Linked DNA regions of Homo sapiens: all the other regions are reported to be linked to region 3. Evidence: microRNA targets listed by miRTarBase, many of them from high-throughput screens and not tested one by one. Region 3 holds a microRNA gene; each other region holds the end of a gene's coding sequence.

The links. The annotated mature microRNA hsa-miR-5704 reads UUAGGCCAUCAUCCCAUUAUGC and lies in region 3 at 1,498-1,519, shown strand. An mRNA with a match to its seed (bases 2 to 7 or 8) in the 3' UTR can be bound and repressed. Matches are read on the target gene's strand: a 7mer-m8 pairs with bases 2 to 8, a 7mer-A1 pairs with bases 2 to 7 and ends in A, and an 8mer does both.
Region 1: the mRNA of TMEM64 is a reported target of hsa-miR-5704. Seed matches in the 3' UTR shown: 7mer-m8 at 890-896.
Region 2: the mRNA of TRADD is a reported target of hsa-miR-5704. Seed matches in the 3' UTR shown: 7mer-m8 at 902-908.

What each region holds. Positions count from the first base shown.
Region 1 is chr8:90,622,269-90,626,336 of GRCh38, reverse strand. It overlaps TMEM64 (transmembrane protein 64), which reads left to right. Exons shown (of 3, transcript NM_001008495.4): 3 at 475-4,068. The coding sequence ends at 666. Among named protein-coding and RNA genes, the nearest start is that of LINC01030, 18 kb to the right of the region's middle.
Region 2 is chr16:67,151,380-67,155,447 of GRCh38, reverse strand. It overlaps TRADD (TNFRSF1A associated via death domain), which reads left to right. Exons shown (of 5, transcript NM_003789.4): 3 at 1-71; 4 at 154-352; 5 at 489-1,263. The coding sequence ends at 799. Among named protein-coding and RNA genes, the nearest start is that of B3GNT9, 2.4 kb to the right of the region's middle.
Region 3 is chr3:131,983,352-131,987,419 of GRCh38, reverse strand. MIR5704 (microRNA 5704) reads left to right here and starts at 1,489; the gene lies at 1,489-1,565. All of the region lies in intron 1 of CPNE4 (copine 4), which reads left to right.

The DNA of each region.
Region 1 (4,068 bases), not on the chromosome of region 3:
TTTTAATTTTGTCTTCACCAGGTAGTTCATTGCAAATAGTAGTGCTTCTCACTAAGTGGGCTTAGAAATACCTATGGACATTTATAGTCATGCAAAGGTATAATACTACATTAATTATACCAACAAAGTTTAGCCAGCTGTTACCTCTATTGTAGACATTTTTTATTCCTTGAAGAAAGCTTTTTGGTACAAAGAGACAGGTTTGGCTTGTATCAAGTGAACCAAAAGGAATGTGTGTTTTCCTAATACCATGTCATGGTTACCTGTAGACTTTGGTCCTCCACTACCAGGAGAAGCAGCAAAGGAAAGAATAAACAATAACTGTGTGTAAACTATTTAAAAATGTATAACCCTTTACCTACCATCTTTGAGAAGCACCCTGTTTGAAGCATTTCTAAGCCAAATATTTATTGGATTTATTTCTTTTTTTTGTATAAAATATTGATAACTGTAATGTTTTATTTTTATTCACAGATTATTATAAGTATAGGCCTCATGTTTTATGTAGTTCATCGAGCTCAAGTGGAATTGAATGCAGCTATTGTAGCTTGTGAAATGGAACTGAAATCTTCTCTGGTTAAAGGCAATCAACCAAATACCAGTGGCTCTTCATTCTACAACAAGAGGACCCTAACATTTTCTGGAGGTGGAATCAATGTTGTATGATTCTAATGAGATACGTGATTGTCAAGAGCCTAGTGTGCTATCTAAGGTCTAGCAGTCACTTCACTAGTGGGCAGAGACAAGTTCTAATTGTATTACAGCACAAACAAAACTGACTAGTTTTTAAATTGCACAATTTTTTTTTTTTAAAGCAAGAATCATTTTCTGGGTATGTAAGTGTAAATGTAGATGCAAATTTGGCTGCACCTCTTTATCATGCCTGTATTGGCCTATAGGTCTGCACTTTAGTGTTTTTTAATTGTTTTATTTCTGTGTATTTACGAACAGAGAAATAACCCAAATATTATTTCTGCTTAGTGTCTTTATTTATAAAGCCCATGAGTAGTTTGTATGCATCTTTCCTACTTGTAAAGATGAGTAAAAGTATGCAGTTTTAAATTTATAATATTATTGGATGTTCTTTGCTTTGGTAGTCTTTCCAGAAAGGATAAACAGTGGTTTTTGTTTTGTTTTGTTTTATTGTTTAAGTGGGACCACTTAGCTTCCCGTTTCCTTACTAGTTAAAGAACAGACATTAATTTTCAGTTGAATGTATTTTTGCAGGCATCATATTGTTACAGGGCCATTTACACCTATTCACAAAGCTTAAATCCTACCTTGTGGGACTGAAGTGCTCTTAATATAACTGTTTATTTTCACTGTGTAATATGCAAAGCAAAAGGGAAATTATTTGGTGGATGGTAGCTCAAAATTGGAACTCTTGTTCTAATTCAGTTACATTGGCTTTACCCTCCTTAGATTTTTCATCAAAGGGCTGTCCCATTGCAATCTTACTAAAACATTTTGTTAAAATAAACTCTTTTCCTTTTTATATTAATAATTAGGCTTTTAAATAAAGATGTTATTCCTTTAAAATGGTGGGCTTACCATCATTGAAGATGTCACTCAGGTGGCCTTGTTTGATCAAAACGCCTTTTTTAAAAACCAAGCTTTAAAAACATGTTTATAATTTCATGAAGTACATATATATTGTTCCCATAGTCTTCAGCTTTAAAACTATAAATATGCCCAAATTTTGTTATTTGCCCTACTTTAAGTAGGTTTATTGTGTTTGTTTTTTCAGTACTTGTTTTTCTCTGATAAGACTCAGGAATTCTGAAATGTGAAATTGTCTCAATTCTTTCTCTTGTAGCATGAATCAAATGTATTTATTAATAGCACTTATGACTATAGAATATAATTTGGCATATGATTCATATTACATATGTATTCGTTTTATTTTTAAAATAGTTTATAAACTTAATGATTTTTTTTTACAAATGAGGTTATAGATATTAATGCAAATTTTCTGGTAGGTATCTCTTTTTTTGCTATGATGATTCCAACTTATCAGAGACCTCCCATTTGCCTTTTCATTACGGTGAAAGCTTTGCCCTCATCTACTAAAGTACAAAGGAATTCTTTGGAAGCAGATTATTCTAGTCTTATGCTAGAGATGAATTTGATCATTTTAATGTGTGATCTTTTTGCTCTATCAGGTATAATTGTTTTCCTTTCCTTTATAATGGGTAAGTTTTCTCACCTTTGAGTAACAGTAAAGTTCATTTATATGTCCATACCTAGAAGACCAGTGCAAATACTTTGAGAGCACCTGGGTCTACAGGACATAATTGGCATCTAAATCCTCATTTCTTGCTATTAGTAGGAAAACAGATATAGTATTGTAATACCCTTATTCTTTTTGAATCCTAATTACTCATTTCGGTTTTTTTTCTCTCTTTTGAATCTAGTTGCTGGTTTTCGTTTAATGATTTTAGTTTAACAATCCCAACCAACAATACATTTGATTTATTTTTTTCTGTCTAACCTGACAACCTTTTTCTTGTGCTTCTTGTTTGTTGGTTAGTTTTTGTGAAAGGAATCATTGTTTAAGATCACTGTTTTCATACTTGTTTTACACTTCACGTATTTTGAAGTACATTTATTTACTAAGCATTTGTGACTTGAATAATTTCACCAAATGAATACATTTTGGTAGTTTGTAATGAGTTCTTCTAATTGTTACACTTTGCTTGGTACTTAACAATAAATATGTAAAGGTAAAAGAAATAATTTTCTGTATTCTGCCAATCTTAATTTTATATAATAAATCATCCATTTTTTTCTTAAAATAGTATGGATTGACTGTTTCTAAAATACCAATCTGTGGCTGTGGTTTTTCTTTTCTTCAGCATTTCCAGCATCCAAGTAAACAATAGTCCCTTATAGTCCTGCTACTTGATGGGTAAATTTGGTTGCTGGGTTTTTAAGTTGCACTCACAATAAATCGTGCAAAGCATTGTCATGCCTTATTTACTCCATTTTTAATCCTGCATCCCAGATTTATGGCAGCAACACATATCTACAGGATACTTTTATGTTGTCCAAATATTGCTGTCAGTCATATGTACTTATAAAATGTCTCCACTCATGTATATTTATAGAAATGAAATGTCAAATTTCTCAGACTGTTAAAGTGCAGTATAAAGTTGCTTAATGCACACTTAAAAATGATATATAATTTCTGAATCCTATGAAATATGTGTTCTTTTTTAATTCTTTGGGAGTTTTCTTAAGTTTTACATGTTTTTTGGTTTATTGTTAATGATTTTGTTTACTCTTTGCCAAATTTTGTCATGTAGGTTATTTTACAATAGCACCTTTAAAAAAAATGTATATGCTAATTTACTAAGCATATTCATGTCCATTTTTATTTGATCATCTGATTTGTGAAATAACTTGAAATTTGTACTGTTTGGTTTGTGAAAATAATATTACCAAATCTCTGTCATTAGAATGTGTACTTTATGTTCAGAAGTGACTGTGGGTTTATTCAGAGCCAGCCATTCTCTCCCTTGATGCACTTTGTAACCAGCTACACATGCTTTTAGGTGGCTTTTCCCTGATAGGGTCAAGTATATGACTATAAAACATTTTTCTTGTGAAGCTATTAAGTTCATTAGTTACTCTTATTTCCCCTTGTTGTAACTAAGTGGTGCAGGTATAAGCATATCCCCAGCATTCCTGTGTGTGTGAATGTGCACTGCTGATTTGGACTGTTCTTGAGAAAGGTGCTGTGACATATGTCAATATTTGTTAGCTCTGGGGATATCTTTAGAATGCTTGAGAAAGTTGCTAGGTGTGTGCCACATTGGTGCAGGTAAATCCATGCTGTTCACAGCCAAGCAGCATTTGCAGAGAAAAGGAGAGTTTTACATAGACCCCAGGAAAAACAGTACTAACCTGGTTGATGGCCTTGGTGGTGGAATTTTGTTTCAGCCAGAGGCTACTCATTATATCAGAATGATGTTCAGTATAACACTATCTGATTTTTAGATTGGTCGATTTCTGTTGTAATCAAGTATTTAGGATGTAATCTTTTTAAAGTCATTGCTTTAATCTGAA
Region 2 (4,068 bases), not on the chromosome of region 3:
CCGGCGCCGAGCGGCTGGACGCTTTGCTGGCGGACGAGGAGCGCTGTTTGAGTTGCATCCTAGCCCAGCAGGTGCGGCCGGGCTAGGGTCAGGATGGGGTAGGGCGGGGATCCGCGGTTAAGTCCCCCGTGACGGCACGTTCCATTCCCCTAGCCCGACCGGCTCCGGGATGAAGAACTGGCTGAGCTGGAGGATGCGCTGCGAAATCTGAAGTGCGGCTCGGGGGCCCGGGGTGGCGACGGGGAGGTCGCTTCGGCCCCCTTGCAGCCCCCGGTGCCCTCTCTGTCGGAGGTGAAGCCGCCGCCGCCGCCGCCACCTGCCCAGACTTTTCTGTTCCAGGGTCAGCCTGTAGGTGAGGCGCAGGTGGAGAGGCGGGGTCACCAGGAGGTTGGAGTCTGGGGAGGGGCAGGGGTCGTTGCCGGGTGGGGATGGGTGGGACCGGCGCTGGGGGTCCCCGCCCTCACCCCGTTTCCCCACTCCCTCTGCAGTGAATCGGCCGCTGAGCCTGAAGGACCAACAGACGTTCGCGCGCTCTGTGGGTCTCAAATGGCGCAAGGTGGGGCGCTCACTGCAGCGAGGCTGCCGGGCGCTGCGGGACCCGGCGCTGGACTCGCTGGCCTACGAGTACGAGCGCGAGGGACTGTACGAGCAGGCCTTCCAGCTGCTGCGGCGCTTCGTGCAGGCCGAGGGCCGCCGCGCCACGCTGCAGCGCCTGGTGGAGGCACTCGAGGAGAACGAGCTCACCAGCCTGGCAGAGGACTTGCTGGGCCTGACCGATCCCAATGGCGGCCTGGCCTAGACCAGGGGTGCAGCCAGCTTTTGGAGAACCTGGATGGCCTTAGGGTTCCTTCTGCGGCTATTGCTGAACCCCTGTCCATCCACGGGACCCTGAAACTCCACTTGGCCTATCTGCTGGACCTGCTGGGGCAGAGTTGATTGCCTTCCCCAGGAGCCAGACCACTGGGGGTGCATCATTGGGGATTCTGCCTCAGGTACTTTGATAGAGTGTGGGGTGGGGGGGACCTGCTTTGGAGATCAGCCTCACCTTCTCCCATCCCAGAAGCGGGGCTTACAGCCAGCCCTTACAGTTTCACTCATGAAGCACCTTGATCTTTGGTGTCCTGGACTTCATCCTGGGTGCTGCAGATACTGCAGTGAAGTAAAACAGGAATCAATCTTGCCTGCCCCCAGCTCACACTCAGCGTGGGACCCCGAATGTTAAGCAATGATAATAAAGTATAACACGGATTTTGATGTGAGAAATACAAGTAGTAGTGGCTTACACCTGTAATCCCAACAATTTGGGAGACAGAGATAGGAGGATTGCTTGAGCTCAGGAGTTTGAGACCAGCCTGGGTAGTCCCAGCCACTTAGGAGGCTGAGGTGGGAGGATCCCTGGAGCATGGAAGGTTGAGGCTGCAGTGAGATGTCACTGAGCTACTGCACTCCAGCCTGGGTGACAGAGTGAGACCCTGTCTCAAAAAAAAAAAAAAAAAAAGAAAGAAAAAAAAAGAGAAGTTGTGGAGGATGGAGGAAGGGGCCTAACCTGGGCAGGGGACAGGGGGTAGGCTTCCTGGAGGAGATGAGTGTGAGTAGGCATAGGGGTGGGCTATCGAGAGAAGGGCAGTGTTCGGGGCACAGTCTCAGGCAAGGGCTTGAGGAAGGCTTGTGGGTTTTTCAATGAGGCCAGTAGGAAGCCTTTGAAGAGTTTCGGGAGTTAAGACTGGGAGGTGGTTGTTTTTTTTTTTTTTTTAATTTTAATTTTTTTTCAGATGGAGCTTCACTCTTATTTCCCAGGCTGTAGTGTAATGGCACGTTTTTGGCTCACTGCAACCTCCACCTCCTGGGTTCAAGCAATTCTCCTGTTTCAGCCTCCCAAGTAGCTGGGATTACAGGCGCCCACCACCATGCCCAGCTAATTTTGTATTTTTAGTAGAGATGGGGTTTCTCCATGTTGGTCAGGCTGGTCTCAAACTCCTGACCTCAGGTGATCCACCCACCTTGGTCTCCCAAAGTGCTGGGATTACAGGCATGTGCCACCGCACCTGGCCAAGACTGGGAGGTTGATGAGGATGGGGGTGGGGGAAATGGTGGCCCCAGGCTGGGGCAGTAGCAGCAGAGATGGAGGGAAGGGGATGACCACCAAAGAGCTGTGTGGGTGGAAGAGTAACAGGCCTGGTGACACTGGGTGAGGAATGGCTGAGAGAGGGCCCCAAGTTTCTGCCTTTGCCAGTTGGATGGTGGGTGGGACTGCTTGCTGGGATGGGGCCCTGGGGGGAAATGAAATGCTTGCTCTGTTTGGGACAAGTTGAGCATGATGTTCCTGCAGTGCATCCGGGGAGAGAGTATGAGGGTAGTTGGGTCTGTAGTTCTGAGTTCAGGATGAGGGTTCAATCTAAAGATTGATGAATAGACAGGTGGGGAGTGGGTGGGGTGGCCCCAGGGGATGTCCTGAAGGACACCAACCAGAATGGGAACAGCCAAAGAGGAAGGAGGAAAACCAGGAGATTTGGAAACCAGGGGATTACCCACCCACTATAATGGAGCGGGTAGTCAAGACCGAGGAGTGTCTGTTGGACTCAGTTAAAAGGAGCTTACCAGTCAGGGGTCTTTCTGAGTCATGGTGGAGGCAGCCCGAAGCTTTATCACAGGAGGGAATGGAAGGTGAGGCCGCGGAGAAAGCTGGAGCAGAGGACTCCTGATTACTTTGTGACCAAAAAGAGTAAGGCTCAGGGTGGAGATTTGGCTTTTTTTTTTTTTTTTTTTTTTGGAGAGAGTCTCACTCTGTTGCCAGGTTGGAGTGCAGTGGCACGATCTCGGCTCATTGCAGCCTTCGTCTCCCGGGTTCAAGTGATTTTCCTGCCTCAGCCTCCCAAGTACCTGGGATTACAGGCACGTGCCACCATACCTGGCTAATTTTTGTATTTTTAATAGAGACAGGGTTTCTCCATGTTGGCCAGGCTGGTCTCAAACTCCTGGCCTCAAGTGATCCACCTGCCTTGGCCTCCCAAAGTGTTGGGATTACAGGAGTAAGCCACCACGACTGGCCTTTTTTTTTTTTTGAGACAGTCTCGCTCTGTTGCCCAGGATGGAGTGCAGTGGTGTGTTCTTGGCTCACTGCAACCTCCACCTTCCAGGTTCAAGCAATTCTCCTGCCTCAGCCCTCTAAGTAGCTGGGATTACAGGTGCCCACCACCATGTCTAGCTAATTTTTGTATTTTTAGTAGAGATGGGGGTTTCACCACGTTGGCCAGGCTGGTCTTGACTTCCTGACCTCAAGTGATCCACTCACCTCAGCCTCCCAAAGTGTTGAGGTTACAGGCATAAGCCACCACACCCAGCCAGAGAGGTGGCTTTTTAAGATTGAACATTGGTGGGAAGAAGCCGTCAGGAGCAGATATAGCCCTTGGACAGAGGATGGGGCTGGGTTCTTAAGAGACCAGTAGAGGCTGTCTATTCCAGGCTCCACCACATGGGCTGGGACCAAGAAAGAGAGAGCTGGCAGCTGAGCTGCGCAAGGACTTAGCTCTCCATTGCAGAGCACCTCTGTCCACCTGCATCCCAGAGCAATCCTTTAGCCAAGGCCTCCGCCAGGAGTCTTCCCAAGCTGTCCCCATCCTTGCCAGCCCTGTCTGACCTGCAGCTGCACAGGCCTGATCATTTCTACCTGCAGTAGGCTATGCTGGGGACCAGGGGACTCAGAACTGCACCTGGCTTGGGCTCAGGTCCATTAGCCCCCGGGGAGACAGGCTGAAGTGCTTGCCTGTGAAATTAAAGCAGACTGGGTTGGCCCCCTGTTCTGTATCCCAGTGGATGAATGAGCGGGGCAAGGACAGATAAAATAATCCTGGCCTGAATTTCAGAAGACCTGGGGGCAGAGCTTTCTGGCCTTTGGATCCTGGGCAAGTCACTTAACTCCCCGAAGAGCCCCCCAGTGTCCCCATCTGGGCATGAATGAGAGCTGCTGGCAGAGTTGCCCTGAGGATTGGGTGGGCTGCCTTGTTTGTCCCGTGCGTGTGTTTACTGGGGGTGGGGAGCATGGCAGAACCAGGAGTAAGAAGACAGCCA
Region 3 (4,068 bases):
AGCCAAACTCTGTCTCAAAAAAAAAAAAAAAATCTGTACAACTTAATTTGTAAAGTGTACTAACCTAAAGTGTACTACTTATTGTGTCAATTTTGTTACCTTTTCCCACATCAAATGTAGAACATTTCCAGCACCAAAGAGGTTTTCCTTCTTCTTTTCAGTCAATACTCTCCCAGAGGCAACCACTGGTTTTACTTCTACTATCGTTAATTAGCTTATTAGCTTTTCATGTTCTTGAACTTACAAAATACCACTATTTTTTACTTAATATTTTCAGAGTCTGAATTTTCACAAATCACCCACAAATCACACATTTGAATATGTGCACATTCAAATTTGAGAAGTGTTTTTATGGAGCATTCATTCTCACTGCTGGCTGCACATTGATATCAACTGATGCCTAAGTACCACTTCCAGAGATTCTGATTTAATTGGCCTTGAGTGAGGACTGGACATCAGGACTTTTTGAAAATTCTTAGGGGATTGTAATATGCAGCTGAAATTTAAAAACACTGTTCTGTCTATCCTTAAGTTCTTTGTTTTTTTTTTTTTGTTTGTTTGTTTTTGTTTTTTTTTGTTTTTTTTTTTTGAGACCGAGTCTCGCTCTGTCGCCCAGGCTGGAGTGCAGTGGCGCAATCTTGGCTCACTGCAACCTCCGCCTCCCGGCTTCTAATTTTTTATATTTTTAGTAGAGACTGGGTTTCACCATGTTAGCTAGGATGGTCTCGAACTTCTAACCTCGTGATCCGCCTGCCTGGCCTCCCAAAGTGCTGGGATTACAGGCGTGAGCCACCGGGCCCAGCCTCCTTAAGTTCTATGTTGCACAATTCCTCCTGTCTCTGATCCATGCTAGGAGAGAACAGTCGTTACCTCTCAGAATAAAGCAGATCTTGCCTAGAGCAGATTTGCCTGCTTTTTTGTTTGTTTGCTGCTTTTCTCATCTCTTATCTTCCCTAGAACCTAAAGGAGATGCACTTAAGCCATTAGGTTGTTGCTCTCATCATCCTGTGGGAACAGTGGTGTGCTAGAGCTGACCCATACTGGCTTGTGAGGGCAGATTGTGTGCTTCCAACTATATACAATGTCATTCAAATTATTCAATGACATCATGTTGGTAGCTTGAACTTGGCCATGGTGGGAATATTTACACAACAGAAATTGGCAAACACTACCAATCAGGTTCTGTTTCCTCCCTGACTTCCTCCTAGAGAGCTGGTTTGCCATTACACACCCCCTATAGGTAAATACTGCTAAGGAGAAGGGCTTAATCTGGTTAAAGCAGTTGTAAAATGATCTTTCAGTAGTCTTCTCAAGCGATGACTTTTCCTAACCTCAAATTTACCATTTAGCAGTTACTAATATGTTTAAATAATGTTTTCAATGCATCTACTCCTTTGGGAAATATAAAAAGATGGATATAATTATCGTATTTCTTCCATCCATCTTGGTTGAAAACCCTTAGAATTATTTCCAATAGTCACTATTGTCTGATCTTGTTTAGGCCATCATCCCATTATGCTAAGTCCATGGGCAAACATAACAGGATGATGGCCTAAACAAGACCAGACAATTATCCCATCATCAGTGTTGTGCTCAGTACATGGACTAGGTAGCAGAAATCAGTGATAGCTTTTATTACAGCATCTCACTTAAGGTTTTTCATTGAATATAGTATTCCCTTGGAGTTGATGGGCATATGACTTAATTGGTTTCAATTGGTCATTGAATTCCACTGATTACGAAGTGATCCAATATATTTTTTATTTTGTATATAAACCTGTGGGGCAGCACTGAAAAAGAACTTATGATTCTCAGTGTTTAAAATAAGATCTGGAGTCAGATAAACCTGTTTTTGAATCTTGGCTCTTCTACTCCTATTTGGGCAATCATAGGCAAATTATAATGTCTGTAAGTTCCATGTTTCTCATCTTTAAAATGGGTATTAAAAATAGCTTGCAGGATTATCCTGAGGATTAATTAACATAAAACAGAAATGCACTAAGCTTCTAACATGATGCATAGTAAAACACTTAATATCTTTGGTTGGGTCCCCAGGAGCAGACTCCAAGACAAGGATTTGGGTGCAAGTAGTTTGAGAGGTTGTTATAGACTGATGTGTCCCTTTCAAAAAACTGATATGTTGAAATCTTAATCCCCAATGTGATGGTATTAGAAGGTAGGAACTTTGGGAGGTAATTTAGGTGATGAGGGTAGAGTCTTCATGAATGGGATTAGTGCCCTTACAAAAGACAACTTAGAGGGCTCTCTAACTCTTTCTGTCATGTGAGGACACAATGAGAAGTTGACACTCTGCAACTTGGAAGGGAGCCCTCACAATGCTGGCATCCTGATCGCAGACTCTCAGTATCCAGAACTTTGAGAAGTAAATTTCTGTTGTTTATAAGTCATGCAGTCTATGGTAATTTGTCATAGCAGCCCAATATAAGACAGAGGTCACCCCAGGAAATACTGGTAGTAGATGGAGAAGTCAGACAAGAAAGAGAAGAAAGCCAACAAGGAGTGGATTACCACACACATTTGCATTGTGAGTAATTGGAGCTTAATCTTACTGGGGAACTCTGAGAACCAATGTGGAAGATAGACCTCAGAGGTATCTCCCTAGAAGACAGAAGAAACTGAGGTATTAATCTACCAACTCCTATCAGTCATCAATTCTTAATTCTCTGGCACTACAACCTTCCATGTATATGAGCAGAGAAGGATCCAGTGACCAGAACAAGCCCTTAAGGAAAGTGATGTAGGTGATACAGTTGGAAGATGGGCCAGCATATGCAAAAATCGTTCAGGGAAAAAGGGACATAGGCAGGCACTGATATCTATAGTAGCTCAATAAACACTTGATAGCAGTAGCTATATATGGGAGGGTTTTCATGCCAGAAGCTTGTTTACACATCAACTACTTTGATAGAGGTGGGGGAGAAGAGTTAAAGCAGCATTAGTTCATCTCCTAAGGTTTGTCCCAGCTCTAATATTTACAAATATCTCATGGTGTATTTCTTTCTGTATGCACAAGCACTGCTCTTTTTGGTGAATTAAAATCACAAGAAACCCTTATGCAGTTTTACTTTTAATAATGGGAAACGGTACTGTTGTAACCATTAAATTCTAATATGATAAAAGATAAGTTTATCTAGAGGCAGTGCAGTTCAGTGTAAAGACCACAGGATGAAGAGTTAGGAGATCTTTGTGGAGTCTTTACTCAGTCACTTACCATTTGTGTGGCCTCTTAAAGGAGTAAAAATCTACAAGTCTCAACTGAAAGGAAAACATTACCTGCCTAGCTAATGTGTTATAGTGAGAGCACATGGAACAATGCTTTGAAGAGGAGTTGTCTCAGATGCTGAGCTCTACATAGGAGCAGTCAAGTTTTCTACCAGTCAGAAGGGCAAAATGCTTCTGGTTGCTTTTGGCAGGAGTACTGAATTCACTGTAAGGCTTGATGATTACCTTGTGCTTCTCCCATATCCACAGCACTGAAGTAATTTGTGATTTGAAGACACAGTGACTCTCTTGGGGCACATTAGACACATAGATGTAAATCAATTGATTCCAAGGATTCTGTGCAGCTGTTGTCTTCGATGGATATAGTGGCTGCAACTGCCTGTTTCAGTTTCCTCCTGGAAAACTCTTGATATCAGTCTCTGACATCTTGGAGTATTTCTTTGGCTCCACAGACATTAAGGAAAATCATCTATAGAAAATATTTATATAATTTTATCTTTGCTTGTTCTCAAATCCAAGGGATGATCATGCCAAAATTTTAGGAGTGAAATATGTCTTTGCCCACAGTGTGCCTACCACTTTATAAATTATACCCTTATACAAAGTATTGGTTTTGAATTTTGGAACTAATTATAACTAGGTAAATGCTTAACTGGAAGACTTTGGAATTTCATGAAATCAGTGCCTTTAAAGTTATGCACTTTAAAGAGATCTTTTTGTATTAATTAGGATATCCAGTAAGTCTTTTTGTGCAGCTCCACGTCGTAGCAAGGAATTTATAATATGTATGTATTTTAAAGATGCATGTGGCATTCTAGCAATTAC